Homo sapiens: one gene and its partner. The protein of the gene in region 1 interacts with the protein of each later gene in a pairwise test. Each region holds a gene or a part of one and is shown on either strand. Other genes may lie near its edges.

Region 1 (3,822 bases):
CATCCATGAAATGACCAATGAGTGAATAATCAAGTAGGGAAAATGGAATGCCTTTCCTGGAGGATCTCACATGATGCAAGAGTGCTCTCACCCCTTCTATTCAATCAATACTGGCTGTCCTAGCTAGAGCAATTAAATAGCAGAAGAAATCAAACTCATCGAAATCAGAAAGAAAGAAGTAAAATTATATTTGTTTGTAGACGACATGATCTTCTGTGCAGAAAATCACAAAGAGTCAACCAAAATACTACTGGAACTAAGTAACATATTCAGTGGATTTGCACAATACAGTATCAGCACCAAAAATTAGTTGAATTTCCATACTTTTAACAACAAACAACTTTAAAAGAAAATTTTAAAACACTTCCATTGGCTGGAGAACTTAAAGTAAGAAATACTTAGAAATAAACGTAAAAAGGTCAGAGGTTTTTACCTTGAAATCTACAAACATTGATCAAAATGATTAGAAACATAGAGCTACAACCCATACTTATGGTTTGGAAAAATTAATATTGTTAAATGATTATATAACCCAATGTGATTTAGATTCAACACGGTACCCATAAAAATCCTTATCACTGGGGCTGGGCGCAGTGGCTCACGCCTGTAATCCCAGCACTTTGGGAGGCCGAGGTGGGTGGATCATCTGAGGCTGGGAGTTCAAGACCAGCCTAACCAACATGGAGAAACCCCATCTCTACTAAAAATACAAAATTAGCTGGGCGTGGTGGCTCATGCCTGTAATCCTAGCTACTCTGGAGGCTGAGGCAGGAGAATTGCTTGAACCTGGGAGGCGGAGGTTGTAGTGAGCTGGGATCGCTCCATTGCAGTCCAGCCTGGGCAACAAGAGTGAAACTCCATCTCAAAAAAAAAAAAAAAAATCCCTATCAGTTTTTGTTAAAGAAACAAAAAACAGGCTGGGAAAATGGCTCACGTCTGTTGGCCAGGCTGACCTCAAACTCCTGAACTCAAGTGATCTACCGGTGCTGGCCTCCCAAAGCGCTCAGATTACAGGTGTGAGCCACTGTGCCTGGCCCAGTCCTCTTAACATAAACACTTTAATGTCAATTAAGGCTTCAACTCAATGTTAAGTCAAACTCAAGTCAATGCTGAACTGACTCTAGTGTCAATTAATGCTTGATGGTTTGCTATACACATTGTATTTGGAACAACTATCTCCAAAATGAATTTTCTGATATCCTGCAAGGAGTGAGCTCAGACTGAAGACTTTGGCACACTGATGACATTTATAAGATTTCTGTCCAGTATGCATTCTCTGATGTCTAGTGAGGTGTGAATGTGAATTAAAGGCTTTGCCGCAATCATCACACTTGTGAGGTTTCTCTCCTGTATGAATTCTCCTATGTTTTGCATAGAATGAAGCTTGACTGAGACCTTGTCACAATCATGACATTTGTAAGGTTTCTCTCCAGTACGAGTTCGCCGATGAACTGCAAGTTATGAACAATGTCTGAAAAATTTGCCAAATTTATTAAACTAGTATGATCTCTCTTCATTATGGATTCTCCAATGATTCGCAATGGTTGTAGTGTAACTGAAGACTTTGTGACAATCATTACATAAGTAAAGTTTCCCTACACCATGGATTGCCTGATGGTAAACAAGTGTTGACTGCCCACTAAAGACCTGTCACATTCATTATACTTGTAAGCTTTCTCTCCAATGTGAATTCTAGGATGTTGTGCCAGGTGCGAATTATGCCTGAAAGCCTTGTCACAAACTCTTACATTTTTATGCTATCTCTCCAGTAGGAATTCTCCTGTGTCTTTCAAGGTTTGAGTGTGACTGAAAACTTGGTGACATTCTTCACATATGTAAGCTTTCTCTCCAGTATGAATTCTCCTGTCTTTGGAGGCTTGATTTGCGACTGTAAACTTTGTCACATGCTTCACATTTGTAACGTTTATCTCCAGTATGAATTCTATGATGATGTGCAAGCTTTGCTTTTTGATTTAAAACCTTGCCACGTTCATTACACTGCTAAGGTTTCTCTCTAGTATGAATTCTATGACTATCAAGGTTTGATTTGAATCTGAAAGCTTCATCACATTCTTCACATTTGTAAGGTTTCTAATACGACTTCACCCATGAACTGCAAAGGTATGAAGGATGTCTGAAAAATTTTCTGCATTTATTCTGCATTTATCACACTTGTAGGATCTCTCTTCATTATGGATTCTCCAATGATTTGCAATAGTTGTAGCATTACTCAAGACTTGGTGACAATCATTACATTTGTAAAATGCTGACTGCCCATGAAAGGTTTTTCTACACTCATTATCCTTGTAAGGTACCTCTCCAGTATGAAGTCTACGATGGTGCGTAAGGTATGACTTCAGACTAAAGGTCTTGCCACACTCACTACACTTTTAAGGTATCTCTCCAGTATGAAGTCTATGATGGCATGTAAGGTATGAGTTCTGACTAAAGGTCTTGCCACACTCATTACATTTGTAAGGTATCCTCCAGTATGAAGTCTACGATGGCGTGTAAGGTATGAGTTCTGACTAAAGGTCTTGCCACACTCATTACACTTGTATGGTTTCTCTCCAGTATGAATTCTCCTTTGTCTTTCAAGGTTTGATTTGAAATGGAAAACTCAAATTCTTCACATTTGTAAGGTTTCTCTCCAGTACGAAGTCTACAATGGCATGTAAGGGATGAGGTCTGGCTGAAGGTCTTGCCACACTCATTACACCTGTAAGGTTTCTCACCAGTGTGAATTCTCCTATGTCTTTCAAGGTTGGATTTGAAACAGAAAGCTTCTTCACATTCTTCACATTTGTAAGGTCTCTCCACTATGAAGTTTATGATGGTACACAAAAGATGACGTATGACTCAAGGTCTTGCCACACTCATTACACTTGTAAGATTCTCTTCAGTACGAATTTTCTGATGTATTTCAAGGTTTGATTTGAAATTGTAAGCTTTGTCAAGTTCTTCATATTTGTAAGGTTTCTCTCCACTATGAAGCCTACGATGGCATGTAAGGGTTAACTCCTGATTGAAGGTCTTACCACACTCATTACACGTGTAGTTTCTCTCCAGTATAAATTCTCCTATGTCTTTCAAGGTTTGATTTGAAACTGAAAGCTTCATCACAATCTTCACATTTGTAAGGTTTCTGTCCAGTATGAAGTCTATGATGGTATGTAAGGGATGACGTCCGGCTGAAGGTCTTGCCACACTCATTACACTTGTAAGGATTCTCTTCAGTATGAATTTTCTGATGTATTTCAAGGTTTGATTTGAAACTGTAGGCTTTGTCACATTCTTCACATTTGTAAGGTTTCTCTCCACTATGAAGTCTACAAATGTTAAGGGTTAACTGCTGATTGAAGGTCTTGCCACACTCATTACACTTGTAAGGTTTCTCTTCAGTATGAAGTCTACGATGGTATGTAAGAGATGACTTGTGACTAAAGGTCTTGCTACACTCATTACACTTGTAAGGTTTCTCTCCAGTATGAACTCTATGATGGCATGTAAAATGTGACTTCCGACTAAAGGTCTTGCCACACTCATTACACTTGTAAGGTTTCTCTCCAGTATGAAGCCTACGATGGCATGTAAGGTACGACTTCTGACTAAAGGTCTTGCCACACTCATTACACTTGTACGGTTTCTCTCCAGTATGAATTCTCCTATGTATTTGAAGCTTTGATTTGAAATGGAAAGCTTTGTCACATTCTTCACATTTGTAAGGTTTCTCTCCAGTATGAAGTCTACGATGGCATGTTAGGTAATATGTCTGACTGAAGGTCTTGCCACACTCATTACACTTGTAAGGTTTCTCACCAG
Region 2 (3,922 bases), on another chromosome or scaffold:
GGGAGGACGGGTGTCCCTGCCAAACTGGAGATGGGTCTCAGAACTGAGTCCTGGCTCCATCTTCAGGCCGCTCCCTCGCTGCTTCAGGGTCGCTGCTTCAGGGTCACTGCCTGGGGCTGGCAGATCTTCACCTGGGGTTCCCTGGTGGAGATCAAAGCTCTATTTTAGGACAACTCACTCAATGATGTTGTTCAGGCCAGGAATCACTGACGTCACTTTTCCAAGCAGTCCCCCAAGGAGGCCACCAGAAGTACCTCCTCCAGGCTTCAGGATGTCCAGGAGCGGAAGGTTTTCCAGAATGCCCAACAGGCCCCCAGACAGCAGGCCATTGCTGAGGGCTGGAAATGGGTGTAAGGGTCTCTGGGGGTCAGATCTGACAATTCCAGATCCTCAGGCCCCCTCCCCCATCCAGCCCTGTCCCTCCCCACTTTGCAGGGTTGGACACACACACACACACACACACACACACACACACACACACACACACACACACATGCACACATACACCCCTGAAAACTCACCATTTGTCAAGCTTCCTGCAAGACCTGTGGGACTCAAGGGCAGGGCTGGATTCACATTCAAGGGCAGGGTCTGGTCCAGGGGCACGGGCAGGCCTCCAAACTGGGCCATGGTCTGGGCTAACAGCCCGTAGAAGACAATGAGGCCCCCAGTTTGAAACATCTTTGCTCTTAGTATCTGTGGCCAGAATGACAAGTCCAACATGGCATGGGTATCAGAGAGGAATTTATCCACCACCTGCCCTGACACCTGGGGGGTGGGGTTGTTTGCTCCCCAGAACACCAGGGGGTCACTAGTAATAGCTAATACTGCTGAACAATTTCTCTTTGCCAGGCAACAGGCTGACCACTTTACACAATTTCATCTTCATCACAACCCTAAGACATGGGCACCTGTTACCTGCATTGCACAGGTGAGGACCACTGATCAGGGGCCTAAAAAGGAGACAGCCCCACTCCACCACATTCCAAAGAAGAGGGTTTTTTTCCTTCTTGCCAAGAATCCCAGCCTCACCTCACTCCATCTTGCCCACAGTTCACTTGTCTGATTTTCCAGTAGGAGAAACCAAGGCTCACAGAGGTCAAGTGAGTTTGCAGTTGGGAGTTTCAAATATACTCCCATCCCTTCTTGAAACCCACTTGTGTACTACCGAGTGTGGGTAACTTTCCCCAAGGTCACAAGTACACGGTGGACAGAGGATTAGAAGCTAGAGCCAGGTGAACCCTCGGTTAAATTAAGTAACCATCAGATTTATTCTCCAATCGGGCTTGCTTCAATGGTTTGAATCATTGCTGCTCTTCAGACAAAGCAAATGAGAAGGGTTAAACGTGCAAGTGCTGAAGAATTGAACTGTTTTAGATCATCCCTGTTCAGTCCTTTGGCCTGAGCTCAGGCCATGATGGTTGGTGGATGCCCTTGAAAGTCACACAATACAGGGGTCGCATGGCCACAGCCACCATCTCATGTAGACCTTTGTTGGGGAATTCCTGGGGCCATCAAAGTCTTCATTGCATGAGAAGAACCAGGAGACCAAAGAGGGGTAGTGACTTTCCCAAGGTCATACAATAAATTGATGGCAGAGCTGTGGTTGAAGGCAGGTCTCCCAACCCTCCCCTCACCCAACACACAAACATGCATTCTATCATTTTGACACCTTTCTCTTCTCCTTCAAGCTGCCCTGGATGGAATTCCGGTCAACCCCTGAGGTTTGGCTTGCAGACCTCTCACAGGTCTATTTGGCAGCCAGCAGAGTTGTCCAGAGCCAGCACTAGTACCTACAATTTGGAGACAACTGGTGACTTTGTGCAAAATTCCATCTATTGGCTGACTCAGCTAAAGCTCCATCCTTGTGGTGGAAGGCTGGAAATGAAAGGTCTTTGGTCCAAAGAGCCAGTTGTGCCCTTCTTAGGGAGGTAACTTTGACCACAGCCTCTGAATCTCTTTTGGGCAACAGACCCTTTATGAATCCAATGGAAGCTAAAGATCCTAGTCTCAGAAAAAATGCATCAAAATGTATAAAATTGGGTGAAGAATTTTAGGAGGTTTTTGGATCATCTGTATCCACATTGGTAACCTCAAGCTAAAACTTATGCCTTAGAGGCTTTCATTTACGGCATTAATAGTGCCCATTTCTATATCAATGTTACTGGTCTCTTAGGACAGCAGAGCAAATGGCCATCCCCACATCCCTGACATTGGCCAGGTCTGTTTCTCTTGCACAGCCCCCAGTGAGTGATCAAGATCACTCACTGCCCCACAGGGCAGGAGCCTGAGATCCCTGCCGTTAAGGGTAGCAGAGGGGCCACAGAATGGATGGCTCTTACCTGGACTTCTTAGAGGTCTCAGCAGCTGTCCTGGTCTCCTCTCTCTCCCCCACTCACTTCTGCCGAGGAGTCAGCCTCTTTTATAGTATGGGGACGAGGAAGCATGTGTTGGGTGATGGGTTTCTAGATAATTGAGAATTCTGCAATCTGACAGTGTCTTTCAGGGCTCTCCAAAGTAAATAATTGCCAATCACATTAGCAGGTGAGACAGTTAAGCTATTTGGTCAACAAGATAAACAGAGAAAAACCTGAGATGGGATGTTACTCAAGACTTTATGGTTTCCTGAGCGGAGCCAAGGTTGGGGACCCACGCTCCCAAGGTAGCTTGGAGCATTGAAAGGAGCAGCCAGACAGAGCCCAGGAAGGGACCTCAGTCTCATCTCTTGGCCCCTTTCCTCTCCTGCTCTAATTTTTTTGCTCCAGTTGGAGGATTCTTTCTCCTAAAATGTCAAAAGAGTCACACTGCATCCTACATCTGGGGTGCGTCTCCATTCCAGGGCAAGGGTCTCCTGTTTTCAGAGCCCCTATTGCACGTCAGGAGCTCTCTGTCCTCACAAGAACCCTGAGAGGGAGAGGTGACTCCTCCTCTTTTATAGAGGAGGAAACTGAGATCCAGTGGGGACAAGTGCTGAAAGACCCAGAGAGGATGCAGCAGAGTTAGAATGCAACTGACTGGAGAATGAAAACAACAAAAACAACGCCAACAGCAGACACTGGCCGAGCTCCTGCTGTATGCCTGGCCTGCCATGGTGTTCACAGGCAGCATCTCACAAAATCCTCACAACCCTGTACTCCTATTCTATAAGGGGGAAACTGAGGCTGAGTGTGAGGCAAGTTGTCCAGAGATGCAGTGCTTGCCTGGGGTGAGACATCCACATTCAGGTCCTTTCCCCGAATCACTGCACTGAGAGATGAAGGTGCCTCCCAACACTTGCTGGCCATTTTGATTTCCCCACCTGTGAACTTTACACTTTCATGCGTCCCTTTTTATTTTTTAAATTTTCACTTAATTTTTATTTTATTTTATTTTTTGAGACAGTCTTACTCTGTCGCCCAGGCTAGAGTGCAGTGGTGTGATCTCAGCTCATGACAACCTCCACCTCCCGGGTTCAAGTGATTCTCCTGCCTCAGCCTCCTGAGCAGCTGGGACTACAGGCGAGCGCCACCATGCCTGGCAAAGTTTTTGTATTTTTAGTAGAGATGGGGTTTCACCATGTTGGCCAGGCTGTCCTCGAACTCCTGACCTCAGGTGATCCACCTATCTCAGCCTCCCAAAGTGCTGGGATTACAGGCGTGAGCCACAGTGCCCCGCCGCTTCTCTTTTAGGTCCTGGAAAAGTCTTTCCAGGTTCCCAGGCCTGAGGGATCCTTTGGCATCCTGGTCTCTATCCTACCCTTTCTTCTACCTTTCCCTAAATGGAGTAATCAGGCATTTATTTATCCCCACCACTGGGGCCCTTGGAGTCTGTTCAGCAGATGAAAAAGTGAAGACACAGGAAGGCCAAGGTCCTGGACCAGTGAGCGCAGCTCTTACCCTGCAAAACCTAACACCTTATAAGCAAAAGTGGAGAGAGAAGGAAT

What was found.
Region 2: the proteins of ZNF765 (region 1) and BPIFA1 interact in binary tests that used the Homo sapiens proteins (3 or more experiments, as listed by UniProt).

Annotation. Positions count from the first base shown.
Region 1 is NC_000019.10:53,408,352-53,412,173, reverse strand, and holds the end of ZNF765 (zinc finger protein 765), read right to left. Parts: coding exon 3,047-3,822; 3' UTR 165-3,046; downstream 1-164. UniProt on the Homo sapiens protein: May be involved in transcriptional regulation.
Region 2 is NC_000020.11:33,234,471-33,238,392, reverse strand, and holds the start of BPIFA1 (BPI fold-containing family A member 1 precursor), read right to left. Parts: upstream 2,398-3,922; 5' UTR 2,343-2,397; intron 697-2,342; 5' UTR 682-696; coding exon 522-681; intron 339-521; coding exon 179-338; intron 1-178.